Regions from separate parts of the Homo sapiens genome. Here region 2 is linked to region 1. The links come from fine-mapping of genetic effects on gene expression. Tissue or cell type: whole blood. Region 1 holds a variant in brackets; the other region holds the start of a gene. All regions are shown on one strand. Distances are between the middles of the regions. Region 1 overlaps SLC9A9 (solute carrier family 9 member A9). Region 2 holds the start of SLC9A9 (solute carrier family 9 member A9).

Region 1 (16,083 bases):
AAGAAATAATAAATGCTTGAGGAGATGGATACCTTCACCACTAAAATTTTTAAAAGCCTCTCTTGGCTTCATGTTTTACTCTGGGCCTGTTTGGGCATTGTCAGAACCTCCCTTCACCCTTCCTCATACTGGCTCTCCGAGGAAGTGAAATTAGAGCTGAGATCCAAAGGCAGAAATGTGACCGAAACAGGAGATGAGTGGAGGAAACAGGATCCCAGCCAGAGCATAACACGCACAGAGATCTGAGGTAGAAAACAGTTGTGTGTAGGCTGGGCACAGTGGCTCATGCCTGTAATCCCAGCACTTTGGGAGGCTAAGGAGTGTGGATCACTTGAGGTCAGAAGTTCAAGACCAGCCTGGCCAAATTGGTGAAACATTGGTTTTAAATATAGGATGAGCAGATCATCATTTTCAGCTTCTGAGTTGATTGTTGCAGTCCAAAAAGTTTTTTTACTCAGATTTCTGAATGAGCCAGTATAACAAAAGAAATGGTGGAGTGGGCAAAGGCCATAGTGTGGGGCCTCACTGACCTCTGGCTTTTAATATATGAAAACTGAGGCACTAAGGAGAAAAACAAACCATTTTATTTCATGATCTATGTTCCTTCTATTATATAAATTACTTGGAGTAGTGTTTAAGGGCATGGACACTCAGAGCCAAGCTTCCTGGGTTCAAATCCGTTTCTACTAAAAATACAAAAATTAGCTGGGCATGGTGGCTCATGCCTGTAATCCCAGCTACTTGGGAGGCTGAGGCAGGAGAATCGCTTGATCCTGGGAGGCGGAGGTTGCAGTAAGCCGAGATGGCGCCATTGCACTGCAGCCTGGGCAATAGAATGAGACTCTGTCTTTAAAAAAGAAAAAAGAAAAGAAAAGGCAACAGCTGTGTGTGTTCAGAAACCCAAAGGCCAGAGGGGCTGGGTGGAGTGGGCAAAGGCCATAGCATGGGCAGATGGGGTTGAAGAAGACCCAGGTGGAATTGGGCAGTGCTGGGAGGTGATCCCAAATGGAGAAGGTGCCGGTAGAGGGCTGGGCGGGGATGAGAGACCATCTCGATGCTTTAAGAAAGTCACTTGGGTGGCTTCTGCAGAATCCCGGTGAGAGAGGATGGTGGCCGGGAGTTGGGGAGAGAAGGCAGTACCCAAGTATACTGGGGAGGCAGAATGAGCAGTCAACAAGTTAGGTGTTGAGGGTAACAGGAAAGGGAGAAATCACTTCTAGGTTTTTTGCTTAGGTAGTAAGAAAGCCTAAGGTCAAATGCCTGCTAAATCATAGCTGCTCATCAAACGTTGGTTTCCTCTCACTAGCACATATTCCACATGTCTAGAAAAATTGTTTTACTTACATTTATGAATCAGACATGATTAAACTCCAGCCATTTCTTTTGTTATACTTGCTCATTCAGAAACCTGAGTAAAAAAGCTTTTTGGACTGCCACAATCAACTCAGAAGCTGAAAACGATGATCTGCTCATCCTATATTTAAAACCAATGTATTACATTAATTTATTTTCAGAAAATCAATCTAATTCTACTAGGTTTTGTATTTTATAATTGATTCTGGGCTCTTAGTACATTTGACTTTTGGTGTACAAAGCTTGGCTTGTAATTATCTTTTGAAGAGAAGCACCAATGTTTTGATTCTGTTTTTACCTCACTGACCTCTGGCTTTTAATATATGAAAACTGAGGCACTGAGGAGAAAAACAAATCATTTTATTTCATGATCTAGGTTCCTTCTGTTATATAAACTATTTGGAGTAGTGTTTAAGGGCATGGACACTCAGAGCCAAATTTCCTGGGTTCACATCCTAAGCTCCTTGACTTGGACAGCTATTTAACCTCTCTGTCCTTCAGTTTTCTCATCTTTACAATGGACATAATAGTGTGGTACCTAATTCTAAGATGGTTATAAGAATTAAATGAATTAATATTTGTAAAGCCCTCAAAGCATTGCCTGACATCTAGTAAGCACATTTTATTTATTACAAAAGAAAATAAAATATTTGAACGAATATTTTCAAATCATAGCATTTGAAGAAACTGCCTATTGTCAGAAACTCCTAAAGGTTACACAACTGTGCAAAATTTGAGGAAAGATCTTAATTTTTCATTTAAGTTTGTTCCCTTTCTAAGAGTATCAGGAACACCATTATTGATCTATTTTTATGAGGCTTCTTTGAGAATATATCAATGCATATTTGAAAGTTTTTAGCATAGAGATGTATTTCTGAATGCTTGAGGGATGAAGCAGTGCAGCTGTGATCATCTGGAAGAGAGAAACACAGTGGTACAACCTCCTGGACAGAAAATCCCTTGCCTCAGCAGTTTTTCTGCAAAAATCGGGTTAATCACTCAACCAGAACATTTCAATAATGAAAATGCCCCATTCCCTGCATGCAGGTTAACTAATATCCTATTGAATTATATTTTCTGGAGCAGCCAGATGAAACTGGCAGGCTGAGAATGGCATGCAGCATGCAAGGATTTATTTGTGTATACAAAACAGATTTGTGTTCTTTTCAGACTTGCTGTAAGCTTACGAACTGCTAAATCAGAGTTCTGGGAGTAACTCCAAACCCAGACAATTTCTCAGAAATGGCTGGATCTGCTGCTGTACTAACCTCCAGATGGGAATTCCACATGTCATTCTCCCCAGACTTTGTGTTCAAATCGTGGCCTTGGAGGTGGGGCTGTTTTTAAGGCCCAAACAGTTAAAAAGAAATTATTGTAACATGAGGAGAAAAAATCCAAGCGAGGGATGGGTGAGAAGAGCAGAAAGCTAAAAATGTTCCCGCTTAAGCCTTTCATTAGTCTTTTAAGATACAAATCTTATGGACAAGCACTGCCTAATAGAACTTTTTGTGATGGTGGAAATGTTCTTTCCTTGTACTATACAATATGGTGGCCACTAGCCACATGAGCCATTGAACACTTGAACAGTAGCTAGTGCAACTGAGGGACTGAATTTTTAATTTTAACACTGGTAGCTAGTGGCAATTGGAGAGTACATTTATAGATGGTTACTAGAATTTAAAATTTATACTATTTCCTTTTTAGATGTTCTGTCATACTACAAAAGGTGTGACTAATTTGGAGCAACAGACCTCCAACTCTGAGATGGAAACATTACGTATGTCTTATGAAAACAGTGAGATTTTTAAATATTAAAATTCAATTCTTAAAGATAAAATGGGAGAGAGAAAAATATCAATATGTTCACGAGGATGCAGCAAATTTTAAATATTATCTCATATGTGCACCAGTATTTGGCTAGCAATGGCCCAGACATATATTTACAGAGATAATCAACTTGAACACTTCCCAGAGTGGAAAGGATATGTACCAAGTTAATTTCCAAGTTCATCAGAAGGTTACAGATATAAAATTCTGTTTGGGTCTGAGTATTAAGGAATCCATTGACTCAATATGACTTATCTGGGAAGAAATATCAGTGTTCCACTGAACTACTAAATAAATAATCACTAAAACAACCATCCTAGTGAGGGATTGTGATTTATGTAGTACATTCCTTCCAAAGAGGTCTTTTAAAAACATTGTTTCATCAATTCTGACAACATTCTCAAGTGGTAGCTGGCAAATGCAATTATCCCCATTTTCCAGAGACAGGAGAATAAATTAATGGCTTACCCAGGGTCAATCAATAAGACAGGACTATCACTGGGAATTGGATATATATGCATGGGCAAATGAAATGTGTGCTTTCCAAGGAAACATGAGGCTAACATAACCATTTTAAGCAAGATTTAGGAGTGTTTAAGAGAAGTTGGAACTAAGAAGTAGGCTCTTGCTGTTTTGCAATTGCTGATTTTTTTTTAAGTGGTTAACAATAATGTGTTAATCATCTTCAATGCTTTATTCATTAGAAATTTAACAACCCTCTTTTTGCTGCGAAGCACTTGAAGATATATTATAGAGAGACTGACTCCATGAAGGTTATAGTCCAAGAAAGGGAAGACGCTGTATAATTGCATCTAAGGTGCTGGGATAAGCTGTAATTCAGAGTTTTCTATGACAGGGACACCATTCTGGGCTTGCTGATCCCCCAGGAAATTTTGATGTTGAAGCAGCATATGAGTTGGATTTTGAAGAATGGGTAAGAGTCTATTTGTGGGGCATTGACATGCAGAACCATGCTCTCCTGCCTCCCCCGGGGGCAGTGGACCAGAGTTCCCCAAACCACAGAGAACACCGGTAGCTTCCTGGGGTTTCAGTTACAGTTGGTAGCAAGGAATTTAAAATATTAAAATAAATGCAGATATATGAAAAAGTGAAACTAAAAATCTGTATCTGTTTTTAATACAAATAGGAGACTTCAAAGGAAACATCATGGCTCAGGCAGCTTTGGGTCACACCTAGGGACAGCTCAAGTGTGTGCATTTCTTTTCCTCTGCCTTAAGTTATGCTTTGGTTTGAGAAGCACCAGAGTGAGAGAAAAAAGAATACTCTCAGAATACCTAATGAAAATATACCACCTAGTAGTTAGATGACCTTGGTCTATTTACTTAACCTCTCTGAGCCTCAGTTTCCTTATTCGTACTATGGGCATGAAAATGCCTGCTTCCTAGAGTTGCTTCTGAGGATTATATGTAATAATGAATTTAAAGGGTTCTGCTTGGTACCCAGCCCTATTTTTCAAGAAGTGTTCACTGGCCCGGCACAGTGGCTCACACCTATAATCCCAGTACTTTGGGAGGCCGACGTGGGTGGATCATTTGAGGCCAGGAGTTTGAGACCAGCCCAGCCAACATGGCAAAAAATGGTCTCCAGTTAAAAAACAAAAACAAAAAAACAAAAAAATTAGCCACGCACAGTGGCACACGCCTGTAATCCCAGCTACTCTGGAGTCTAAGGCACGAGAATCGCATGAACCCGGGAGGCAGAGGTTGCAGTGAGCCAGGATTGCATCACCACACTCCAGGCTGGGTGACAGAGAGAGATCTTGTCTAAAAAGAAAAAAAAAAAAGAAAAAGAAAAGAAAAACAAGAAGTGTTCACTAGATCTGAATCTAAATGAAATAAAATATTGAAGCAATGGTTTGAGAATATGAGGCACAAGGAACACCTGGGGAACAGAAATAGACAACGTTGGGTTCCTAAGGAATAGAGGGGAAGGTAAAGTCCAACAGGAGGATACAACCAAGATTGTGGGCCTCTCTCAGATCCACTGGATTTAAACTATGTTTACTCAAACCTGTTGAGCTATTTTACACAAGCAGAATTAAATAATAAAATGGCTACTGGAAATATACTTTGTATTACTCCTAAGAAGGGTAATTTGGTAATAGCTATCAAAATGTTAACTGTTGATACCATTTGATTCAGCAACACCTCACCGGAGAATTTATCCTGCAGATATGCTTGCACATGTGTGGAATAATATAATTACAAGAGTATTTATTGCAGATGAAATAATAGAAAAAACAAATCATTGAGGATGATTGGACCATGGACTAGTTAAATAAATTATGATATAATTCATAAAACGCGCCTGTTAAAAAAGCTGAGGAAACTGCTCGCCTATGAAATAATGTGGCTGTGCTCAAAAATGTATTGTCAAGTCAAAAGAGCAAGGTGCAGAATGGCATGTCTGGCATGTGTAACAGAAATCTCTATGGCCTCACAACACCCATTTCCTTTTTGTCCTGGTCAGACATGTAGACTACATTTCCTTGTAGTCAGGTGGGACCATATGACTGAGTTCAGGCCAACTGAATATGGACGGAAATAATATTTATCACTTCCTAGTCCCTAAAAATCCCCCAGATTTTCCATGCTTTCTCTCCTTCCTTCCTTTTTCAGCTTATGTAGAGCATTCGGCAGCGGTTATGAATCCCTAGAGACTAACAGAGAGACTAGATTAAAGGAAGTCAGAGCCATTAATGGCTCCAGGAGAGGAACCCAGTGCCCCATCATTGACCTAAAAAGCCACACTGGATTGAGACATGCACAAGAAATAAACATTTACTACATTAAGCCGCTGAGATGTGATGGTATTTTATTAAAGCATTTGGCATATGTTGTGATTTGTGTTGTATTTTTTTAAAGAAGGACATGAAATATTTACCTGTGTATAGAAAGAGTAACTATTGGTTGCTTTGGGGAAGACAGGGGAGAACTTGGTGGCAGGAAGAAGGGCATTTGGCATAAGAATTTTCTGTGTACCGAGTAAGGGACTAGGGGTGACCTTCTCGGTGCTGGTTTCATATCTGTAAATACAGAGGTGACCACTGCTTAGAGCAGTACATGCCAGAATTTTCCCCAATATGATACAAACAGAAAATGATAATATTGGGTCAATGAGGCTAAATTGGAAGGAAATTAGGGTTCTGATGAAGGTGCTCATGGCTGAAGACAAGTCTGGGGCTCTGCTTATCCTCGGTCCAAGGATGAAAAGATCCATATCTCGTGACACACCTGTGATCCATTAACACACCAGCCGGGGAGTACTGGAAAGGCTTTAACCCCCTGATCCTGATCCCAACTTTAATTCACCCCCTTTTAGGGAATAGAGAGTGACTAGTCTGATTGGTGAATTGGAGAAGAGGAATTAAGTGTGTACCTCTCAGCCTCCTCCTCTGTTCACATTGGAATTAGCCTGCTTGATGAGTGAATCCCCTCTCTCTTCCTCCCGCTCCCAAACTTTGTAAGAGCAGAGCCCAGCATGGAGGCCAATTCTGTCCAGTTGGGTCTCTCTGGGTGTGTAAGTCTTTCTAATTCTGGTGTAAAGGTGAGCAAGGCAGCCCGCAGACCAAGCCCCATTATTTTGCATAGTTTTTGCTCTCCATCTTTCTGATTCCTGTATCTATTTATCCGCTGGCTACAACATGAGGTAGGCAAAAGAGACAATGAATTAACCCTTCAAGATTCTCATATACTCTTTTGTACCTTTTGAACATCAGGCCATGTGAATGTATTACCTAGTCAAAAATATATACATTTTTAAAGAAGATGTCTGTGCAGATTAGTTTGCAGAGACCTCAAGATTGTCCTGGATGAAGGGAAACCATTGCCAGGCTGCAGTTACCAGAATGAGCTCAAGGTAATGATAGTGGGAATGAAGGTGGTTGCGATAGAATGGAAAGAAAGAAACAAGACCAGGAGACATCCATTCACTCAACATGTGTTTCCTTAAAATAAGCCAGGCATATGGCAGGGAGGACTAGCAGGGTTTGTGGGTAAAATAGAGGTAAAAATAGAAAACTCCATAAGGAACCTATGTTTCTGCACCTGGGTGAGTGACTGAGAGAATATGGCTGAGGAGGAGCTGACTCAGCAGGAGTAAGAGGGGTCAGAAAGGCTGAGGGCTCATGGAGGCTTCTGCTCACTAAGTTGGAGGTGCCTGTACGTCACTCAGAAATATGTGCCTGGTGGCAAAGTCAGGGCCAAGGAGAAATGATCCAGAATCATCAGTATGGAAAAAATGAGTTGATGAGCATAGATGGGGTATCTGGGAAATGAGTGCCACAAAAAAGAGCCAAGGATCAAGGACAGAATGCTGGAAGGGGATGCAGTGGCCCTACCAGGGAGAGAGACAACAATCAGAGAGAGGAGGAGAATGAAACCCAGGGCTGCAGAAAGCCAGAGAGAGGTGGAGGATGAGAAGGAGCTGCCACTCCTTCATGCAGGGCTGCCAGGTTTAGCAATCCAAACACAGGATGCTGAGTGAAATTGAAACTTCGGATAAACATCACTTTTTCAGAATAATTTCGTAATATTGCATTTGAGACATAATTTTCCCCAGTCATTGACTATGTATCTGAAATTCAATAAACAGAAAGAGATGTAAGAAGGCAAACCCCAAAAGTGGACCTGGCTGAGAGAATGGCTGGGGAGGAGCCGACTCTACCTTCCCTACTCTGATGTCAGCTGCTGAAAAAAGGAGTTTAAGGACCAAGGGGAAATCCTTTGGGTTTCATAATTAGGAAGTGGTTTTTGATCATTTCTGACTGCCTTACACCAAGAAGTGGGTACAGGAGGTTA[A/C]GGAAAAAATGAGTGATGGCAAGGTAGGAACAGTGGGCTCTGGGCCTTTCACAGGGCAGGCTGAGCAGTGGCTTTTTCAGGAATCTGATAAATGGCTCTTGGATGAACAGGAGGAACAAAGGAGAGGGAGAATAAAAGGACAAAGGCCACAAAAGGGAAGGAAGGAGGCAGGAGAGGACATCAGGAAACAGAGTGGTAAGGGCCAAAATAATGAAGATGTGCTAAGTTAAAAAAATTAAAGAAGTGATAAGAGCAGCAAAATTAATAAATTAATGCTTTTAAAATGGGGAGAAATTTTACTCAAAGACATTCAAATCTGTGGACTGGCCAAATTAGGGGATGGTTTTCATAGTAAAAAAATTAAAAAAGCACTCTTCCATTTCTCCAGGTGTTTACCAAAGAGCCCTTGTACATGGCAGGCACTTGTCAAAGAAATGGGTCAGACTAACAGCTTAGTGCCATTGACAGTTAGGCCATCAAAGGGAGAAGCTGCCTTAGAGGCCACTAGTTGGGGAGAAGCGTGGCAGTAATGGAAAGTGGGGACTATTGCCCCCTCCTTCCTGTCTTAGCAGTTTTGACTTCACCTGTTTGACACACTGTGAAGCCCCTTTTTTGTTAGATTTTCTTTGAATGAAGGGCTTTTTGCTATTTTAAAAAAAAAAAAAGGTTTAAAACCCTGACCTAATATCCGCCGGGCGCAGTGGCTCACACCTGTAATCCCAGCTCTTTGGGAGGCTGAGGTGGACGGATCACGAGGTCAAGAGATGGAGACCATCCTGGCCAACATGGTGAAATCCTGTCTCTACTAAAAATACAAAAAAATTAGCTGGGCATGGTGGTGTGCATCTGTAGTCCCAGCTATTCAGGAGGCTGAGACAGGAGAATCGCTTGAACCTGGGAGGTGGAGGTTACAGTGAGCCGGGATCGTGCCACTGCACTCCAGCCTGGTGACAGAGCAAGATTCCATCTCAAAAAAACAAACAAACAAACAAACAAAAACAACAAAACAAAAACCTGACCTAATATAATCCTCCAGAGAGATCGAGAGACATGTGCAAGGTCAAATTTGTTCAGAGGCAGCACCAAGCTTGGAAATCTAAACCAGAGATGTTTTTCTCTTATTTTATGTATGTGCTTGACTTCACCTCAAACAAGTTTTAAATGATATGCTAGAGTTGAAGTTTCTCCTCTTCTCACCCAGCCCCAGAAATAATCAATGCCCTGAAGTCAGTGCCCTTTCCTTCCATTACTGTATTTATGTATTTCATATATGTGTAGTCGTAAACCATAGTTAGTATTGCTTGTATATTTTTACTTTATTATATTCGAGACAGGGTCTTGCTTTGTTGCCCAGGCTGGAGTACAGTGGTGTGGTCATAGCTCACTGTAACCTTGAACTCGTGGGCTCAAGTGATCTTTCCATCTAAGCCTCCCAAGTAGCTAGGACCCCAGGTGCATACCACCACAACCACCTAATTTTAAAATACTTTTGTATATTTGTATGTTTTAAAATTGTATCCTAAATACCGTTTTACGTTTATTGAATATAAAAGGCATCCTCTTGCCTTTCACATTCAACATAGTTTTTGAGATTTATGTATATTAATATACAAGTGATCTCATCCATTCACTTAAACTGCTGTGTAATGTTCTATGGGATGAACATATCATGATTTGATTTTTTTCCCTTCTCTTGTTACCATTACTAAAAATGCTGCAATGTATATTCTTGTACTTAAGTCTGTGTATACATGTGAGAGTTTCTCCAGAAGTGAAAAATACCTAGAAGTGGGCCTGCTGGGGTATGAGGTATATAAACCTTCAACTTTAGTAGGTATCACCAAATTAGAGGGGCTACCCAATTTACACTCCCATAGTAAAGTGTAAGAGTATTTCCCCAGATTTTAGCCAATACTTAGTATTGACAAATTTCTAATTTTTGGCAATCTGGTAAGCATGAAATGATATCACATGATCATTATCTTAAAGTTTTTCATTACTAATTAAAAGAACATACACTCCTCATTTATTGGCCTTTGTGGTATCTCTTTAGTGAATTTTCTGATCTCTTTTACTCAGTATTAGTTTTTCTTATTGATTAGTTCTTAATGTAATCTGGTTACTATTCTGCTTTGGTTATTTAGATTTCAAATACTTTCTTCTATTCTCATGATCTCCTTAAGCTTTTAGACTTTGACTTTTAACTTTGTTGATGGTGTCTTTTTCATGCAAAAGTTTATTTTTTTTTTTATTTTTTTTTTTTTTGAGACGGAGTCTCGCTCTGTCGCCCAGGCCGGACTGCGGACTGCAGTGGTGCAATCTCGGCTCACTGCAAGCTCCGCTTCCCAGGTTCACGCCATTCTCCTGCCTCAGCCTCCCGAGTAGCTGGGACTACAGGCGCCCGCCACCGCGCCCGGCTAATTTTTTGTATTTTTAGTAGAGACGGGGTTTCACCTTGTTAGCCAGGATGGTCTCGATCTCCTGACCTCATGATCCACCCGCCTCGGCCTCCCAAAGTGCTGGGATTACAGGCGTGAGCCACCGCGCCCGGCCAAAAGTTTATTTTATTGTAGTAAAATTTATTCCATTTTTATATTATTATTTGTGCTTTTGGTGATATCTTTAAAAAATATTTTCCTATCCTGATGTCATAAATATATTTTCTCCTAAAGTTATATAGTTTGATTCTTACTTAAGTCTCTAATCCATCTCGGATTTATTTGTGATAAGATGTGAGATAGGGATCTAATTCTTTTTCTTCCATATTGATAGCCAATTGTCCTAGGAAAATTCATAGGTATTTGGTAATTAATCCTTTTCCCATTTATTTCAGTTGGCTCTTCTGCCATTTTCCAGTGCTTTTTCAAAGACCCAGAAGACATTTACTCTAACAAATATTTTATATCTGTTATCTGATAGCCTATTTAATGTTTCAAAATACAGGAAAAGCTTTATACAGATAGGTATTCACTGAAGCATTATTTATATTAGTGAAAATTTAGAAACAACTAAAAAATCAAGCACATTTCTATCCATTACAGTTAATTTTTAAAAGTCTGACAGAAGGCTTAGGTTATGATAATAAGTAAGTAAAGCAAGTTACAAAGCTTTAGAGACCATCTGATTTAAGCTACACAGAAAAAAAAATATGTAAATGACTGGAAATTTACCAAAATTTATAGTGGTTGCATAATATTGTGGGATTATTTTAATTATTTCAGATAAAATACTTTCTTGTCACTCTAAATGAATATCTTGTAAAGTTACCATTTATGAAGTTATTCTACAAGTGTAATGGAATCAGTAATGAAAATCACATATATTTTTTAAATTATCTTTTAAAGATCAAGGGATAATAAAAGCTGAAAAATGGAAGATAAGAAAAAGTTAAGAACTGGGGACTCAGACTTGTTATATATATATATTTTTTGAAACAGAGTCTTGCTCTGTTGCCCAGGCTGGAGTTCAATGTCTCAATCTCAGCTCACTGCAGCCTCCACCTCCCGGCATCAAATTATTCTCTTACCTCAGCCTCCTGAGTAGCTGGAATTACAGGGATGCACCGCCACGCCCAGCTGATTTTTGTATTTTCAGTAGAGACTGGGTTTCACCATGTTGGCCAGGCTCGTCATGAACTCCTGACCTCAAGTGATCCACCGGCCTCAGCCTCCCAAAGTGCTGGGATTACAGGTGTGAGCCACTGCATGCCTGGCCATGATTTTTAAGTGTGGTAAAATATCTGAAAAGGACTAATACAGAATCAGGCAGGTGAGCAATAAGCCCTCATTGAATGTCCAAACCTATTGAGTTTTTTCACTTTTCAAAAATTACTGGAAGTCGGCAGCAAATCCCTCCAACTAGAAAACTTAGTATTATGAATGTTAACGGTTAAAAACTGGAGGATCGGCCAGGCGCGGTGGCTCATGCCTGTAATCCCAGCATTTTGGGAGGCCGAGGTGGGTGGATCACCTGAGGTTGGGAGTTCAAGACCAGCCTGACCAACATAGAGAAACTCTGTCTCTACTAAAAATACAAAAAATTAGCTGGGCATGGTTGTGCATGCCTGTAATCCCAGCTACTCAGGAGGCTGAGGTAGGGAATCGCTTGAACCCGGGAGGTGGAGGTTGCAGTGAGCCAAGATCGCACCGTTGCACTCCAGCCTGGGCAACAAGAGTGAAACTCTGTCTCAAAAAAAAGGAGGATCACTGAAATATATACATTTTCATTGAAATTCAGAGAAGCAAAACTAAATTACAGAGAAACAGTGAAGGGAGAACAATGTAGAGAAAAATAACAAGTTATCATTGAGAATTTGTGAGACTAGAATACCATAAAGCTATAATTACTTTTCAAGTCTTTAAAATGCTAGAAGTTAGAAATGTCCCATTGTGAACATTATACATACAAAATTGACAGATAGAAACACTGTTATTTCACTGGAGGTAGGTAGTGCCTATGACTCCAGGCAAAATTAAGTGGTGAATTAAGACCAAAACATCTACATAATTCTAAACATTTAACTTGGCAGCATGGAGTTGTAGAAAGGACATTGAACTTGGAGTCAGAAGCCCTGGTCCTAATTGTAGTTCTGTTGTAAATCAAACTTGACCAAGTCACTTAAGCTTCCAGAACTTTGGTTCCTCCTCTGTAGCGTGGGTCATATTTGTTTGTCTTATGGAATAATGGTGAGATTGAATGGACAATGCAACAGGAGAAGCCTTTGTAAATAAAAAAAAAATTTCCATGGAAAAGAAAATACACTGTCATTATTATAATTTGGGTGGGGCTGAAGTTTAGGATTTGACTTCCTCACATATAACCTGGTACATTTACTATTTGCCAATTAGTCATAATAGTAAGTAATTAAAAACAAACTTTCCATAAGGCTGTTACAGTTTTAAAGTTTCCTTCATACACAGTGTCTCATTTATTTCTTTACAACACCCTTTGAGTTAAGTATTTGTGCACACCTCATTTTTACAGAGGTGGAACCAAGGCTCAGAGTTAAGGCCTTAGCTATTTACAAGGCATGTTACTTGCCTTAAGTCACCTACCTTGTAAATAGCCAAGGCCTCGACTCAAATCATAGCTTCTAATTGCAAGTCCATTGCTTTGTTGATAACAACAATAGCAAGTAACACTTAATATACTTTGAGCACTTACTATGAGCCAGACACTATTCTAAGTGCTTCACATGAATTTTCTCATTTGCAATTCACAATAGTCCTACAAAGTAGTTAGGAATTTGAAGCATAGGATGGTTAATTATCTCACCTAAGATCACACAGCTTGTAAGTGGCATTTGATCCAAGTTATATGGCTCTAGAGATTGGCCTTTTAACTTCAATATCCCATCTCCTACTCATAAGTGGGTTCAGGTCACCCACTCAGCTGCTGAATTTGTTCTCATTGAATGCAAATACATCAAGGACAACTAAGTTTTCTAGATCATTGCCATGGCAACAAACCACCAATGGCTAGAAACTCTTCTATGTTTTGCGTAAGATTCTTGATGCACAAACTCACCTTTGCTATCTTTGTGACTTTTTGCTAAGGTCAATATCGTACATCCTGGGTTTCCTACCCCTGGACCTAGATGCCCAAACTCCAGGCCTTCTCATTTTCTGCACACTTGGATTGGCTGCTGCTGGTCCCTTGTGGGCCTGCCATTCATGTGGGGGTTGCCCTACTACCCCTCACTAGCTGTGGTATTGACATAATCATGTGACTTCAGTCTAAGACTGACATGATACCAGCAGGAGAAGAGAAAATAACAGGTGCAAGTGAGAAGAGCCTGGTCCTGCGTCTCACCAAGAGCTACTCATTCCTCAGGAGTCACGAGCCATGCATCCAAAACAATTAAAACTTTGCACATCAACAATGATTTCTTTCTTTTTTCCAATCTAGAATAGATCTTAATATTGGCTATTTTTTTTATTACAGGCAAAAGAAACTGCTTTCTATCACTTCAGAATATACAGGAGCATCTCAATCCTAGTCTTTCTTTGTCTTATTTTTTTTTTTTTTGAGTTTGCATTATCTTTTTCAGACCTTAGCTTTGAGGTGTGTATGCAGCTTCCCCCATCACATGACCTCACCAGGGAGCAACTGGCCTGGGGAAGCTGGACTGGGAAGGGCTGAGTCAGCAAGGACCACAGTCACAGCAGGCACCCTTGAGGGGACTGGGGTGAGCAGGAAGCTGTGTGTGCTGAAATCAGCAGAAAGCATGATTTAAAATTAAATTGGTGCATATTTTTAAATGCATTTAAGCACCACTTTAAATGGTACAATAAAAAGCAACACCAATCTTTCTCCATCACACGCTCCTCAGACTTCTTACTCCAAGGGGAAATCCATGCCCATTAAGGGCAGATGTTATGGAAGGAGAAAAGGAAGTAGACTAATATTTATAACTTGCCTAACTTTAAACATAACTTTTCTCTTTAGTTCTGAAAGTAACTCTCTAAAATATGCTCAGAGAAATTAACCCACCAAAGGTAAATCTCATCTCAGAGATGAGATTCAATTAGATCTAATCATAGAACTTTATGCACTTCGCCATGTGATCTTAGAGGCAGAGTTTGAGCTGAAAATGTGATGCTCTAACAGTAAAATTTCAAGACAATTGTCAAGTAGGAAAGGACTTTTTGGGGACGTGAAAAATGAAGTGTTTAGATATTTCCAATTCTCCTAAAAATGAAATTAGGTAAGCCTGTATTTAGTGATGGGCTTGTAAACCATCTTTCTGGAGAAAAACAAAAACAAAACCTCACAAGCCCTGATTTGTACCTTTTGCCAATTTCTGTGGTATAAATACTCCTATTATGGCCCATTTCAAGTTTTCAACAGGCTCACAAAGTTGTTGAATATTTAATAATCAGTTCTCAAAAGCTGGGACAAGCCTGCTCCAGCACTCCACTGCAGTCATTTTACTCCAACTATGTGTTAACTCATCATCTAGGTACTGTTCTCAGGTTTAAAATCTAGACAAAGCTTCCCAGCCTATGCGGGGGTCAGTGTGCCCGGCACTGTGCTGTGCCACTCTGACTCCCCTTCAATGAAGGCTGTGTTGTCCTTGCTGCAGCAAGCGCTGTCAGTCCCTTTAGGGATTGCCAAGACTGCAGAGAAGCACCTCACCCAACGTCATGCACTTTCCAGAGTGACCCACATCAAAGAACAGAGCAATTTGGTGTTTTAGAGGCCTAGCCTTCTGAATCCAACTGAGAATGACTCTGAGGGCTCATTCTAGCTCCACAGCTTCCCAAGGAGGCAGCCACAATTGTTGGGCCTGCATCTCAGCTTCATTTCTCTCTCTACCCACTCAGGCTTCCTTCCTCTTCTACTGAAAGGTGTCAATCTCAAGGGCACTTGATGAACTTCCTGCTCACTACACACTACCTGAGGGTCCACCACTTTTCTGGGAACCCATCATATGACAGTTAGAAAGAAAGATGAAGACCACTCGAATTTGCAGGACATTCTTGCTCCACACACCCCAACCTGGGGCAGAACTCGATAAATCAGAGCCCACTTAGTCCTGTGATCAGAAATGGATGTGAAGGGAGCAGCTGGGAGACTCCATAACTCCAGGCAAGCTTAAAAGGCAACAAGAGACAACCAGCTGAATGTGCAGCTTCGTTAGGTCCCCTCCCCTCCTGTGCCCAGCTGTCTGTGGAGCCTACCTCAGGCTGTATCTGTTACTAAACAGGAGCTTCCTAATGACCTCAGGAGAGAACAGGGAAATGCAGCTGGGTGGAACTTTAAATAACTACTCGCTGGAGACCAGCAATGATAAATGTGCACTCTTGCCACAGTTTAATATTTTAGAAGGAACAAAGCAATGGGGAAAAGAATTGAAAGATCCATTGTAAATATTATTTACTCAGACTTAAAGTACAATGGGAAATCTCTTTTTTCCCTTCCACTCTCTCTCTGTTTTCTGTTCTTTGCTCAGGCTCCTTTTCTCTCCCTCTCTCCCTGCCTTGAATCTCTCTCTGCCTCCTTCCATCCCTACGCAATTATTTGGAGAGCAGACTTTTTAGCAGTTCAGTCCTCTGAGTAGTAAACAACCATCACAGAGCAC
Region 2 (16,083 bases), 35 kb after region 1:
GATATGCACATTCATTAGCCTTTCAAACACTGAGGGGGGAGTCCTTCGAGGCACCACAGTAGTTTGCAGTAAAGTTTCATCTATAGCTTCTTTGAGATTCAGAATATAGTTTATTCATTTATTTAGTTTACTTATCCAAAATATAGAGGCTCTTTTCTTTATTTTTCTTTTTTGATACAGTCTTCCCGTCACCTAGGTTGGAGTGCAGTGGTGCAATCTCGGCTCACTGCAACCTCCGCATCCTGAGTTCAAGCAATTCTCCTGCCTCGGCCTCCCGAGTAGCTCGGATTACAGGCATCCGCCACTATACCTGGCTAATTTTTGTATTTTTTAGTAAAGACAGAGTTTCATCATGTTGGTCAGGCTGCTCTCGAACTCCTGACCTCAGGTGATCCACTTGCCTCGGCCTCCCAAAGTGCTGGGATTACAGGAGTGAGCCATCATGCCTGGCCCGGCTATTTTCTTAAAATCAACTTTTAAAAACATACAGAGTGCAGGCCGGGCGCGGTGGCTCACGCCTGTAATCCCAGCACTTTGGGAGGCTGAGGCAGGCAGATCACGAGGTCAGGAGATCAAGACCATCCTGGCTAACACAGTGAAACCCCATCTCTACTAAAAACACAAAAAAGTTAGCCAGGCGTGGTGGTGGGCGCCTGTAGTCCCAACTACTCAGGAGGCTGAGGCAGGAGAATGGCGTGAACCTGGGAGGCGGAGGTGGCAGTGAGCCGAGATTGTGCCACTGTACTCTAGCCTGGGTGACAGAGCGAGACTCCGTCTCAAAAAAGCAAACAAACAAACAAAAACCCCCAAAAACATAAAAAAACATACAGAGTGCAGTATGACTTTCATTCTTCCATTATTTTCCCTGTCTCTGGCAAATGTATTAACACATGGAAAACATTGTACAACTCTCTGAAGTTCCTTAAAAATCAAGTTTTTTACACCAAAAGGGAGAAGAAGTTTAGTATGCTGGGCTCCTAACCGTGATTACCTTTCCTGCAGATCCCTTAAAATTAAACCAGAGCTACTCTTGTTTTCATAAAAAATGCTTCTGCAAACTGTGGAATACATAGCCAGTCCTCACTATTAACTTGTTCTCCTCACCTTTCTGACAGGAATTCAACAGAATTTACTGAGCACTCCTTGCAAAATCAGAGCAGAAGCAGGAAGTACTAACAGTGCTGAAATAACACTAACTAAAATCTTGTCTGAGAGAACAGACTGGATATCATTATAGGCTGCCATGTTCTGGAAGGAAAGCTTCTGGTTTGGGCTGGAGTGGCTGAAAGATGCCTGATGGTTGAACTCAGTCTTGGCCTGAATTTTGAAGGACTTTTGCAGCTGGAAGGGAGACATGTGATATCTGTTCCTTTCTTCCCCATTTTATAGATGAGAAAAATAAGGCCAGATGTAACATCACTTGCCCAAAATAATGCATCTAGCTACTGAAAAAAAAATCATCAAGATTAAGAAACTTAAATCTCCAGGGGAGCACATCAATATTTTCTCTATAAAAAAAGCCACAGTGGAATAAGTAGAGCCTTGGAAGGACCTTCAGCCAGCGGGAAGGGGGTGAAGTAGTAGGAAGCATCTCCCATAGGCCTGGCAGTCAGGGAGGCTGGGCTGTCCTGGAGGAGGGTAAAATGGATCAGGAGGGTGTAGCCAACATGTCCAACAACCCAATTTAATCCTGAGGAACCTGCAGGGAGTGCTAGGAAGAAATTAATGCCTGCAGAAGATTTTTCAGAAAAGATAATTTTTCAATCCTTGATGATTCACTATGTAACTGTATTTTCTTTAAATCTTGAAAAACTTGGTGTTGAGTGAATTAAATTTGTCCTACTTAACTGTTAAGCACATTCTTAAAGAATCTGAAAACGCTTTAATATGATATAGTTTAATGAATTCAAAATGTAAACTTAGTGCCTTGAAATTTGTTATGTGCCCACTAAACAGTGGCCACAATTTTTACATGAATTCAGACTAACTTCTATGGGAAGGCCAGGAAGTCAAAGGCAGAATTCTAAGAGGTTTAAATTGCTCTGTCCCTAAGCTCAGATCCCAGCCCTCAAATGCACAGGATTATAAATGTCCTGTAAAGTATGGCAGCCCCCAGTGATATATAATGGAATTCTTAATGCTGTCAGGGAGCAAGGAGCAAATTTCTTTTATGAGCACTGAACAGGGGATACAGGCCCTAAGTGAGTGGTACTAAGTGCACCAGCTGCTGTCAATCAATACTTTAACCGCTAATTGTCATTTATGCTTCCAGTCCAATTTAAATGAGTATCATTATGGCTTATATTTTAAACCAGTTATGGATTCTAATCCTTCAATTTTGAAATGAGAACCATCGAATATCATAATAGATTACCCATTACTGTTCCTGGTGAAGCAAAAATATGGTTATAAAGCTGCCACTAATTTTTATAAGCTTCCTATGACCCTTAATAATAAGAAAAACCTATTTTTTATATAATGGATTATTTATACTATTTGGAGTATCATATGAATCTCTGATTGACACAGAGTCTAGCCAAATGCCACACAATTTTTCTTGGTCTCTACAAGTGTTCATATGATATTTTAAGATTAGCAACTTGAAAATTATTTCTAACAAGAAATATAAAAGAACATTAAACATTCTGCTTGATCACTTTTCTCTGCATTTTTTAAACTGCTTGTTTTCTAAGCCCCTGTTCTCTAGAATTTTTAAATTGGACTCTCAGGTACATTGATAAAATAGACTCAACATCTATCGAGTCTTCTAAAGAACATTTGACACATGTCAAAGGAATACTGGCAGAAAAGCAGATGGCAGAATAGGCTGAAGTATTATAGGAAATTTGATGCTGGGGAAAAACATTTATCATTCTTGATACAGGACAAGTAATACATTATACAAATAGTGAGAGCAAGAACAGTACTCGGTGGAGTAGGGGAGTTGCTAGCCAAATTCATTGATAAGCATTAGGTGCAGGTCCACTAAATCTTAAAATATATTTCATTACAAGCATATGTGTCTGTAGCACGGAGATGACTGTTACAGTCTACTCTCAAATGTTCACTTCCTTAAGAACAAGAAATTTTAAAAGTTTAACTTTCTTTCTCTTTCTTTCTTTCTTTCTTTCTTTCTTTCTTTCTTTCTTTCTTTCTTTCTTTCTTTCTTTCTTTCTTTCTTTCTTTCTGACACAGTCTCACTCTGTCACCTAGGCTCGAGTGAAGGCTGGAGTGAAGTGGCACAATCATAGCTCAAAAAGCTTAAGTTTTAAACATAGTTTTGTTTCTTTTCTTCCCCATTAGTTATCACCATGCCCCCCTGCTCTTGCAAAAGCTAAGAGTTTAATCCTTTAATGGAAAGGGGGATAGTACAATGTGGGATGCTGAAAATTCACTCTTTTAGACCTCCTGGAAAAGAGAATCTGGCTAATCCTGAAAGCTTAACCATATGAGGATGCATCTAGATCCCACAGACACATCCTTTCTCCAGGAAAATTATTGCAATAATTTACTTATTTTTAAATATCTTAGCATCTCTTATTAAAGAGATGGAGGTTGAATCCCACCTCAACAGCTAACTAATTACACGACTTTTATCTCTCTAAGTCTTCATTTGTTTGTCTGCAAAATGAGAATGCTGGATTTATGATCTTTAAGGCTCCTTCCCCATCTATGATTCCAAGTTCATTTATAGCTGTTGGACAATTAATTCACTTGGCATCTCCTTTCCCCTATCATTAAAAAGTGTTTACTACAGTATCCCATCATGTTCCTCTGGTGTAGTTTCAGACTATTTTATTACATTACTGATAGAAAGTTCCTAATAAGCATTTAAGATATAACATTTAGGACATCCCTGAAGAAGAAATGTGACAAGTCATGAATGCCACCCATATGGAGTACTTTCAGAAAACACAGGGAGAGTTCTTTCAGGTGAACGTGAACCTTAGTAAGACATGCAGATGAGTGAAAGCACATGGACCAGTCATGAGTGGCTATTCAGTTTTGGAAAGTCCCTTCACTTCTCTGGGATTCAGCTTCTGCCTCTCTAAAATAAAGGGGATAGAGAAGATAACCTCTAAAATTCTTTGACATCCTAACAATTATGATTCTATGCCAAGAAAAAGTTAAACATCACTAAAATATGTCTTTTCATTGATCTATATAGTTCAAGATAACTGAAAGATACTCAAAATTTCTAGTAAGAGAATACATATATATGCATATCTCCATAATTTTTATAATCCTTTTACATTGCACTGGTTCAGAATTTGCTTTCAATAACTTTTACTTTAAAAAACTCATGAAAGAAGAATAGGAATCAGAGAACCCAACTTAATTCCACTCATAAACTTTAAGCCTTTATCTGCCTTAAGAACAGCAATTTAGAGAAATGCTACCTCAATAGCAGTGGTCAATGAACTACTATTTTATTATTTCAAGCACAATTTAAAAATATTTCAGAGAGTTTTGCAGGATTAAAGGTAACCTGGAATTTTTCAGATTCAAAAGTAAGAGTTACTGTATGTATTGTGAATGCAAAACATGACTGAATTTTAGTAGGTTATCAAAACTTTTACGAAAACAATATCCCCACCATTGAACTTGGTAAATGAGTCATAGTTCAATCAAATTCAGGGATGTGAAGAAATCTTTCCCTCTAATAAAGGTTGGCAATCTATTAAATCTGGGTAGTTTTGCTAAAGCACATATGTCCCTTTAATATGATATCAAGAATTACATTGTTTCTGGCTTCTCAGATTCTATTCCATATCCTTGCAGATTACTTATTAGTCAAGTCAAGAGAAAAATTCTGTTCATGATGGAGATAGGCAAATGACAGGAACCTAGGGCTTCACATCTGATGGCATCCCCTCCTTTTTGTTTGGCTATTTCTCTCCCACCTGATTGTGATTTTTTTTTTCTCTTAAATGAGAGTTTTCTTGTGCCCGTTAAGACCCTCAATACTGGCTGGGAATGGTGGCTCATGCCCGTAATGCCAGCATTTTGGGAGGCCAAGGTCAGTGGATCTCTTTAGGCCAGGAGTTGGAGACCAGCCTGGGCAACATAGTGAGACCCTGTCTCCACTAAATTTTAAAAAATAAATAAAACAATACAGCAAAAAAAGGTTTTTTTTTTTTTTGCATTTGGGTTATGTTTTTTTTCTTTTTTTAATTATACTTTAAGTTTTAGGGTACATGTGCACAACGTGCAGGTTAGTTACATATGTATACATGTGCCATGTTGGTGTGCTGCACCCATTAACTCGTCATTTAACATCAGGTATATCTCCTAATGCTGTCCCTCCCCACTCCCAAGCAAAAAATTTTTAAAAGACCCTCAGTACCAAGGAATTTAACTCTGTGCTCTGAATGGATCAGCATATCAGCCTCCTGAGCCTGAAACTTCCGCCTTATAGCTCAAGTATCTCACAGTGGGATCCACTTAAGGCTTAGGATTCCTTAGGTTCTGAAATCACAACTATACACTGTTAATATCAGGACACCACAGGATTAGCATATACAATGTGCATTGATCTGTACCCTGAATCTCAGGCTTAGGAAAGGGTTTCAGGATTTCCAAAATGAGGAAACCCCAAATATAAAAGTATGTTATTTGCTATAAATTATAGCAATGCCTTGCCTGTTGCCATTGTGTTCAAACTTCCTATCCATTATCAGGCTGAGATAAGAGCAGTGAAGTAAACTATTTCATCAGTAACACCAGTAAAAACTGGTGTCTTTCATTTTACTTTAAAAGATGAGAGTACAGACAGATAATCTCTGTCAGACTTTATTAAACTTTCTGAAAGGAATGATACGGTAAGTTGCCCAGAAAGAGCAATACTGCAGGTGTTAAATATTTTTCCACACCTTGGCCTCCAATACATAAATAGGAGATACATAACAAATAACACTAGCAATGATCATTATAAATTAGAACATCTGAAATCAGGCTAAGAAGTAAAAAGTACTGCATAAAGAAACTCTCGTTTATTTATAACTTTTTATTATAAGAAAATAAGACACTGTTCGTATAAATAAAAAGGACTTGGACACAATATTCTCTTAAGAGGGGTGGGGTTAGTTTCTGCAAGTTTTCTTCTTGAAATTAGTTGATATAAGAGGAATTACTCCAGGCATTTTGAAGTGATGTTTTTTCTAGAACTTCGTAATGTTCATCGGTGCAGCCAGTGAGAGAAGGCTGCTCTTTGTGACTGCAGAGCCATCACTTCCCAACATCATTACAAAAACAAACAGCTCGCCCTCGACTCCCCACATGACAATGGACCCGCATCTGTCAACAGACTTGCATTATGTGCCGTGTGAGAACATGACTGTGACATTTGCTCTCGTGACATGGCAAATTTCGGCGGCTTGTCTGTAAAGAGATTAGCATTCGTTACGCTGCAGCACCTTTCATCAAACTAATGACATTTCAATCAGCACATTTTCTCCAGTTTCGGTACTTTGCTATCTGAGCACAAGTCTCTAATTACGCTCAAGCAACAAGTTTCACATCAATCTCACAATTTATGCACTCACCATACACCATTGCTCCTCCAGTTTCATGCAAGAAGCGGAATCGATGATTTTTAAATAACCAGATTGTCAAAATGGTAAGGATGAGCAAAAAATTGAAGACAAGCAGCTCCACCGCTCCCTGATGTTGAAACTGATACTCATCCTTTTCTGACATAACCCTTGACTGTCTCTCCATTCCCCAGTCTTCTTGGGATTCCTTAGATAAAAACCTGGATAAAGGCTATTTTATCAAGATTTGCCTAAGACAGTCTGACTGCCTGAGAATTTCAGAAGAAACACTGCCACTTTAGTTGCTACTTCACAAGCATTCTGCCCTGGCTTAGTATTCAGATGGCTTCTAGTTACAACTTCCTGTTTCTCTCTTAAAGCAGCCCTGTCTCTTTTCAAACTCGAGAGTGTGTGGTTTCATCACTGACTCTTAATGTCTTTAAGTGATTCATCTCATGAAAATATCTTTCATACTGGACAAATCTGCAAGCAATGATGCTAAGATCTTGAATCACGGTCTTATTATTCCAAATAAGTCTTCTTAAGCTGCATAAATATGAACTGTAGATTAATAATAAAAAAGGTAGCCTTACACTAGCAACGTTTTCTAAGTTCAAAAAGCCAATTCCTGACTCAACTTCACCTAAATGCAAGATCTTTCCTCTCTAACCAAGACCTGCCAAAGTGATGGGGATTGATAGCACAGTTATCAATCAGCCTCTGTGCTCTAAATGGATCAGCATATTAGCCTCCTGAAAAGATATTACACTGCTTAGCCTGAAACTTCCGCCTCATAGCTCAAGTATCTCACAATGGGATTCACTTAAGGCATAGGGTTTCTTATAGGGTTTCTTATGCTCTCAAATCATGACTGTACATTGGTTAAGCAAACCTAAAGTGATTTCACAGGATTTTTTTTTTTTTTTTTTAGTTGAGAAGCAAGAAAGGATTTAGTATATGACTCTATTTGGCTTTATATAATTGATAGTTGCAGAGCAGCCTTTAAACTCTAAATCAATTGTTTTTCTTTTAACAAGAGAAAACAATGAAAGCAAAAGACAAATAAAATTCCATCCCCATCTCTACAACTGTACTGTTTGGATACGTTGAGACAAAAAAGAAAAAAAACAAAACACATTACTTCGAAAGAGAAACTCACGCAGCCATCCTCAGCAACGCCACATGCATGGATTTCTCTTTGTAGGGTTCCTGGTCTCGGCATCCAGGACCCACAGAAATCTGCAATAGATCACAACCTCCTCTGTCCTATGGCAAAACAATGTTGCTCACTGAGAAATGGTTCTGCCACCAGAAATGAAAGCTCTGTATTCACAGGATTCTGATCATAAGAGTGATGATTCTTCAGATCATCTTCCATGTGGCAGGTTGCTCCTGTCTGATTTCATATTTTTCTACTTTAAAATAGTTCAAGATAATACCATGGGTTCTGCAGCTTTTTTTTCCTTTTCTTTCTTTTTTCTTAGCAAATATTATGACCTGCTTGCTTTTAACACTTGATCCTATAACACATTTGGGTATATCCTGGGGTTAGCTGATTTTTTTTTTCATTTTACCATATCATTGTAATTTGGGAGTATTAATCACTTATGATCCCCATTTTGACACAATTAATGCTCAATTTATACAATGTGATTTCTTATTGAGTAGGCTGAGCCCAAATGCGTCCTGAAACAATTTTTGTCACTAAAAGCTAAAGGTCAAGCATGTAATATTATTGGGAGCTAACTACCTCCTCAACAAACAGTTTCACCATGAGAGCAAGTCTATCAACCCCTTAATACAAAGCTCTGCTGTTTCAGCATCTTTGCTTTGTGCAACTTTGGAAGCTTATTTCCTCTCTGAGTTTAACTTAGCAGAGGGTATTTATGTGTGCTGCAGATGTTCTTCTGACACGCTACCCTTTTTGGCAGGAATATCTGTGATGACTAATATTCATACTGTTTTGAAACCTATCAGCTAATGCTTGCAAGCATTTCATGGAGCTTTGCTAGCAGGTTCTACCTTTATGATTTTGCAACTCCACAGGTTCAGTCGAGTTGTCAGATATACAAGATAACACAAATTCAGAAACTTCCTGTCCTTTTGTTTTTTGTCATTATTGAATTACTTTGGTTTTCTTTTATCACAATTATTCCATCTGAGTAGAATAAACATTCTCTGGTTGATCCGTGACATCCAGTTTCACTCTTTTAACCAATGAAGCAACTTGACAAAAGATTAATGGCCCATAGAATGTTTTGATTGGCTTACACGTCTTTTTAAAAAGTTTTAGGTTTGATGTCAACACATTCAAATCAGTATATTTAACATTTAAAAAATCATATGGCTTTTTGCAAGAAAAACTTGTAAGATCTGGCACACTGGGCCCTTCTTACATGGCCACAATCTGTTGGGGCTGAGTGGTTGCCTGCTGCATTTGCAACCAGCTTGCCACAAGTCCATTCATCCCTCTTCTTTCATTCATGGTCCCCGTGTGGCCCCTGCAGATGTTTGAATGTATGACCCCTGCTTTATTCCAGGAATGGAGTACATTCACTATTCCATTGTTCATTCCTGATGCTGCTTCACATTGGGGGGAAAAGCTTGAAGAAAAGGGGCTCAGGAAACATCTCCAATTCCTCCATCCAGAAAAGGAATTCAATTCTTCCTATTTTGTGTTTTCTTTTTAGAATATCATTTTTTATTTTGCTGTACCAACGTAAGTGAGAAAATAAAATGGAAACATGTAACAATAGAGAGTCTACTATGGACCAGAAAATATGCCAAGGAATTTAACTTAGTCTAATTTAATGTGCAGAAAATACTCACCCTTCTCCTGGTGAGTAATTTAAGGCTCAGGGAGATTTGGCAACATAGCCAAGGTCACACAGCCAGTAGGAGTTAAATTGCATGTGGGGTGTATTGGCCTTTAGATGGCTTTTCAGCCAGGGTGATCAACTCATCCTAGCTTATCAGGGACTTTCCTGGTTTACTACTGAAAGTTGTGTGTCCCAGGAAACCCCCTCACTCACAGACAAACAAGCAAACTTGGTCACTCTAACAGCCAAAGTTCCTCAAATTCTCAAATCCTGTACTGTCAGTAATCACTATTTTTCATGAGATTCCTGAAGGAGATATTCACACAAGAAACAATATCAGTTAAAAATTACATGCTGTTTTGTGACCTGGTAACCAGGATCATTAGTTCCAGGTTCTCAGATAAAATTGGGATGGACTCAAAACTTAGGCACAAGGACCAAAGAGGAATTCTTGACTGTCCCTAAATCTCAATATTAATACCTGCTGGCTACTGCAAGATGCGACACGCAAGTGAGAAGCAGCAAAGAGAAAGAACAGGATGGCCCAGCCTGTTGCAGTCAGTGTGCCCTGTCTCAGCTTGCCCATCCAGCCACAATGAAAGAAAGAACTGAAGAGTGGAACCTCCCAGGCCAGTGTAACTTTGCATGGTGCGGTAATCTCACCCATTAGTGAATGGGATCCAATCAGCTTTACAGAATCTAACCAATCACTTGAGAGCTCCTCATTCTTGTAAGAGGTCATTGAAGATTGTGGGGTCAGGGTGTCGAGAAGCTAAGTTTGCTTTGGGTAGGGAGACATACTGAGAAGTCCCCTCTCCATCTCCCTGGAGCTCCACAATGCCCAGTCTTAGTTCTCTCTCAGCCCCTAGTGTTAACAGAGAATACTTCAGACAACACAGGCCCTGGGTTATAGGAAAATTCCACCGTCTCATTCATGTGGCCTTTCCCTTGCTATTTATCCCTCTCTGAGACCAGTGAAATGGAAGTTTCATATTTTGCCCCACCCTACTCCAAGCTTCTGAAATGGGCCAGGACAGGACTGTAATTAAGTTTGCTTGAAAGCCACACGATGTCCTCATCCCAAAATTCATCCCCTATCCTATTTTCAAGCTCACCATAGACCTATCTTAGCTGTCCCCACCTGAAAAAAGTCACATGTTAGCATAAGTTGCCCCTAAATTTGAATAATATGGACCCCTCCCATTAGTATATTTCCATAGAGAAATGAAAGTTCAAAAATTTCACGGGTAATTAAATCCCATAGTAAACACTTGGACAATATTAAGCCCACCCCAAATTCACTGTTCAATGCTTGGTTTCTTTCCTTCAGCCTTTACAAAGTCTGGTCTGTGGGATCCAGGGCCATGAACCCAGGATGTGACCCCAACTCCATGTTCTTTCCACTGCTCTTCATTATAGTGGGAAGGTGAGATTAAAAATCACTGAAAACGAGTTAAATTAGAGAATTTGAATCATTTTATTAACAATGCAAGTGTAGAAATGTGTGTGGCATGGATAGGGGATCCTTTCCTTCTTCTACCCAACAAGTGCATTCCAGCCATTCTCTGAGGAGGGAAAAATGGGTGCAGACCTCACTGTTTCCCTCTGTGAACTGTTATCTCTGTGTTGATTCTTGATGCTCAGAAGTCCATCACTCAGTGACGACCAGAGAAAAGGGGAATCTTCTTCCACCTGCACTAGAGGCTATTTGGCTGGCCTTGGCCCACCCAATGCGTACTGGATGTTATTTAGGTATTTTTTTCATTGAAGAGTCCCAAAACTGTATACAGCCAGGTTGAAGCAAATCTGACACAATGCCTGTGATCCAGTCATGTCATCCCTATGTCATCAAAGGGGGGACAATCTTACAGCTGAAGCCTGGGGAATAAGGAGGGTCCCAGATGCAAATCCCTTGATTCCCAACTCAGGCCCTCTTCACCCTGTTTCCTGCAATCCCCTGCTTTTGTCCTCAGCTTTCTGTCCACAGCACATCATCTCTTTTCTTTTAGAAAGGACACCTCTTCAATAGAAATAATAAACTTCAGTCTATAGGTCCCCTCTTCTGTCTTGCACATCTTGGAGGGCCCATCATGAGAAAAAAAATTCACTCACGGGCTTCTTGTTTTATTCAGTCTCTGCTGGTTCTGCATAAGGCAGAGGTAATGCGGGCTCATCACAGTGGCTGGAACCTACTCCTAACCCAAGATAAAGACTTCATGGGTGAAAAGAAGTGAGCTCTGGAGCCAAGGCCAAGAAGGAAAAGATGGAGACATGCTATTCCATGCTGCAACTTGTTTTAGCACAAAATTTCTGAAATAAGAGCTGAGAAAATTCATTTCTTTGATCTCCCATTAAGTGTCCACTTGATAAATTTGCATTCTTCTTAGAATATAACTGCTACTCTGTATCTCACCAAGTAATAATTCTGACCTCACTAGCTAAAAGACACTATGTGTTAAATTATAAAATTTTTGTAAAAACTAACAAAGAAAGGCATCATGCCCCTCACCTCTCCCGGATCTCTACATTTTTCTCTAAAGAGAAAAAGAGACTTAGGAGAGAAGACAAAGCTCCAGACTAGGAGAAGCTGAATACGCTTGGAAATATTTTCTGAAATGAAGTATGTCAAAATCAAGCAGATTTGGATAGTTTCACCCCTTAGTTTTTCCCATATCAATTCAAAATCTAGCCTTTGAGGCAGCCTTTGTTAGAGGGTGTCTCTATGTGAGTTCCCTCAAAGCAGACCTTGAGACAAGGACTTGCAGGTAGTTTATTTAGGAGAGGATCCAAGGAATCCCAAGTGAAGAAGTTTGCACAAAGACTAGAAAATACCATTTTTCAAAAATAAAATTTTAATTTGCATTGAAGCCTCATTCATTCCTCATTTCATTCAATTCTGTATATGGTTTGTGAACTTTGAAACTTTAATAATTTATAGCTATGCTCAAAGCAATCCTTAAGTAGCACCTAAGATGAATTTTATTTACACTTAAGCCAACTAAATTACATAATAAATTCTATGACAAACACTATGGTTCTCTTAGATAAGAAGGTAAATCATGTTCCATGGCCAGCAGAGTTAAAACTACATGTCACCTGTGCAGAGAAAATTCAATTTACTTTGAAATACAATTTTCTGATGTTAACACTATATCTAAAGTAAAAGTTTTAAGTTAAAAGTTTAAAACTACTCTGAGACTCTTTGAAGACTGTGACTTGGTGTATCACACACAAACACATACACTGTGCCCCACCCTATCACCCAAGGTCTTCCTACAAATGAATTTTAAATCAACAACAGGTGGTTACATATTCATTTAAATCCAGACCAACAGGTTTTAATGGATGTCATAGGACAATGTGATTTTATTTCTATAAAAATGTCCTGCGTTACTGTGGGGAAAAAAAATAAATTCACAAAGAAAGATGGAGCATACAATGACAATTTTTTGGTTACATCATATGTAGCTTCAAGAATGTTTCTTTGTTGGCTAGGATAAATATGAATTCACAAATAATGACACTTCTACTATCCAGTCAGAAGCTCCAGTATCTAAGTAACTGACAGTCATTTCTAAACTCTAGGTGTGGAAAAGAACTGTTTCTCAGAATATAATCAGAACCTATAAATCTCAATTAAACCTGTAACAGAAACATTGTGTTCTAGCAGCTGTTGGAGAGGCTCTTCGAGATTCCCAGGTTCCTCAACAAAATCACTAAAAAGACTATGAATTATGAATATTTGCTTACCTTTTGAATCCTTGCTAAAAGGGTAATTTTAAAAGTTTTTCAGCAGGGTATTTGGGCTTCAAAATTGAGGGACTATAAATAACATACAGTTTTTAAATGTTAAAGGAATATTCTTTCTGTAAAAAAAAAAAACAAAAAACAAAAAATGTCTTCCTAGCTTCTTACTTAAGCCATGTCCTTTATGACACTATAATCTTGAGAATTGTTGAAATGGGAAAAAGCAGAACCAATTAATTATCAGGAATTTAAGATTCAAACAGTATTGGATTCCACCAAAATCTACTCTTAAAACTAGATTTATTTCTAAGTGAAAAACAAAATTGTTCTGTTAGAGATTCAATAGCCAAAACCTCAGGCCTTTCCTTTCCACCATGATAACCAAAAGAGAATACACACAAAATAGACAGCTGACAAGAACAGGGTACACCAAGAATGTAAGGCTTTTGGTGAACTTTGTTTGATAATGCGGCTTAGACCAGAGGCTTCCCACATCTCACTTCAAATCTACAGGAAAGCCGAGGACAGCATACTCTGAGACACACTTGCTGGGGTAAAATCTATCTGCACAGTAGAATCTACTTCCAAGTACTCAACCTCTCTATAGAGGGGAAGAAGGGTTGCCTTTTGCAGAGACAGCAGCCAGAAAGAGGATCTTAGGGCTACATCCACCACCCCTCAAGCTTCTGCGCTCATTTTGACTGATCAGATAAAGAGATAAAAGGCTCAACCTTCTCTGCACCTCAGCACAGGAAACTTACTTCTAGTAAGGCATGGCCCAGCCAATGCGGTGCTTGGATCACCCACTGACCATCCCTGATCCAAGGGATTAAGAGTGGGATATGCTTTCTATGACTCTTTCAGGAGGTCAGAAGTGGAGGTAGAAGTTTCCTCCTTCGTGGACCACTGTGGAAATGTAGGGATAGAAGCAGAAGGGCTCCCTGTTTTTTCAGTTTTTTGTGGGGGAGGGGGTTTTGTTTTGTTTTATTTGCTGTTGTCCCAGGATTATTGAAAATATTACAGCATTGCAGACAGCTTCAAAGAGCTCCCCGAGGCATTTTGAAATTTATCTCAACTGTAGGTCGAGTGACCTGCAGGTTGGACAGACTGACAAAGTCCAAAAGCTCCAGCATTTCCTTAGTGTCAGGATCTACTTCAACGGTCTCCTGATCCAGGACTGAGATCTCGGGAACATAATTGTCTCTGTTTTCTCTCTCCTCCTCCTGCAGCTTGATGGAGATACCTCTCACTGGGCCCTTCCGAATCCGCTTCATCAGATGCTTGACATAGCCTACTATCTTGTTGCGGAGCTTCTTGCTGAGGATAATGGCGATCTCGCACACACATTTGTTCGTGTAGAAGTCGTTGCCTAGGCGCGTGCAGTACTTTTCTATGATGACCTGGGTGGCCTTCTTCGTGATTTTGGTACAAATGTGGCCATGTGAGTGAAGGGCTCCCTGTTAACTCTCCCCAGGTCTTTTTTCTTTAAACCTGTTGGAGCAGGGCTGGTCCACTCGGGAGAGCAAGCCTGCATTGTGTCTGAGCAGGTCTGCTCCTGCGTTCATGTGGTTGCGTGTTTTGTATCCTCCTAGGGCTAGTGTGTAAAGTGGCCTAACTGCTGCACTTGAAGGCTGTAGGGAGAATAGGAACTCAGCGAAATTGCCTTAACTTCACCCCACACCAAAGGATTAACATTTCCTCCTATACAATTTTTTTTTAATTGTGTTGACGACAAGTTGTGTTTAACCACGTCAGCAAAAAAGTATGCCATTTAAAAAAATACTCAAAAAATACATTGCGGATACACTATTCAAACACCTGAATTTGAATGTTATTTGATTATTAAATTGTGAGAAAAAGCCCTAAAGTTTGAAATCAAATTCCCCTTCCTTCTGTAAGCTAAATTTGAACTTTTTCTGACTTTGCTTTCTAATTTTGTTGGATTGGGCTCAGTCTCGTGGTGCCAGATTTTCTTCACCAGCTGTGATGTTTGGGGCCATCTCTGGAGCACTAGAATGTCTATAGACTCTTCAGCAACGACAAAGTTGAACGAACCCAACTACAGATTACTCATGCTGAGCCAAAAAACAGGAAGCATGAGCAAATCCCATGCTCCTAGAGCAGCTGTCCTAAACCAGATTTTCTGTCCCTAGTTTTGTAAATAGTACAATTTGGGGAAAGGCAGGAACATGAAGAAATGCAAAGTTATAGATATAATATTTTTTGTTTCAGGCTAACCAATATAGACATCAACAGGGCATTTGGTCCAGAGGTCATTATGAGAGAATTTAAATCCACGTGAGAAATTGCCCATTTATTGTAACATTGAGCTCCCCGCACCAATGGGGAAATCACTTGTATACACTGTCTTGCCAATAGACAGTGGCACTTAAAATACTTTCTTCTAAAATTTTGAAATGTGCCAGCTTGATACTTCTCCAGTTTTATGCAAGGCTTTGCCAGTCCTCTCTGTGTTCATCTAGTGTGTTTAAAGCCTTTTCATTATTTATTGGTGAAATGATATGACACCTGGACCTTTAACATATACCTTCATAAAATCTTATGAGATAAAGTTAAAACGGAAGTAATGACAATTTTATGGTTGCTGGGGCTACATGATGGGAACGTATGGTATTTTTCTCTCTACTTTTGTGAGTGGTTGAAATTTTTCATAATACAATTTTTTTATGTATTCTTATTTCCCTCTTGATTGTCACATTTGGGGGATCCAATTCCTCCCTGGGCTTGAATGCTGCCTAGTAATGTATCTTCCATTCCCTCTTTAAGCACATTCATGATATGCGTTCTGTGAAATCCCACCCTCTTTACCTTCTCTATTGCTCCATGTTGAGTAGAATTCCAAGAGGGTTTTAGCCTTGCACTGCAGCAGCTTTGGTCCTGGAGTTCTTTTCATCTGGGAACTCTGTTTTATGGATAAAGTTCTCTCCCATTACCCTAGTGGCCTCATTTGGAGGATTACCCTC

What was found. PIP is the estimated chance that this variant, and not a neighbour inherited with it, causes the effect.
Region 2: SLC9A9 starts here. The variant in region 1 is fine-mapped to the expression of SLC9A9 in whole blood (GTEx, PIP above 0.99).

What each region holds. Positions count from the first base shown.
Region 1 is chr3:143,806,895-143,822,977 of GRCh38, forward strand. The region is part of intron 2 of SLC9A9 (solute carrier family 9 member A9); the gene reads right to left. Among named protein-coding and RNA genes, the nearest start is that of SLC9A9, 34 kb to the right of the region's middle. The variant A/C (reference allele first, on the strand shown) is at 8,001.
Region 2 is chr3:143,841,603-143,857,685 of GRCh38, forward strand. SLC9A9 (solute carrier family 9 member A9) reads right to left here and starts at 6,866. Exons shown (of 16, transcript NM_173653.4): 1 at 6,546-6,866. The coding sequence starts at 6,720. It also overlaps the pseudogene RPS17P10.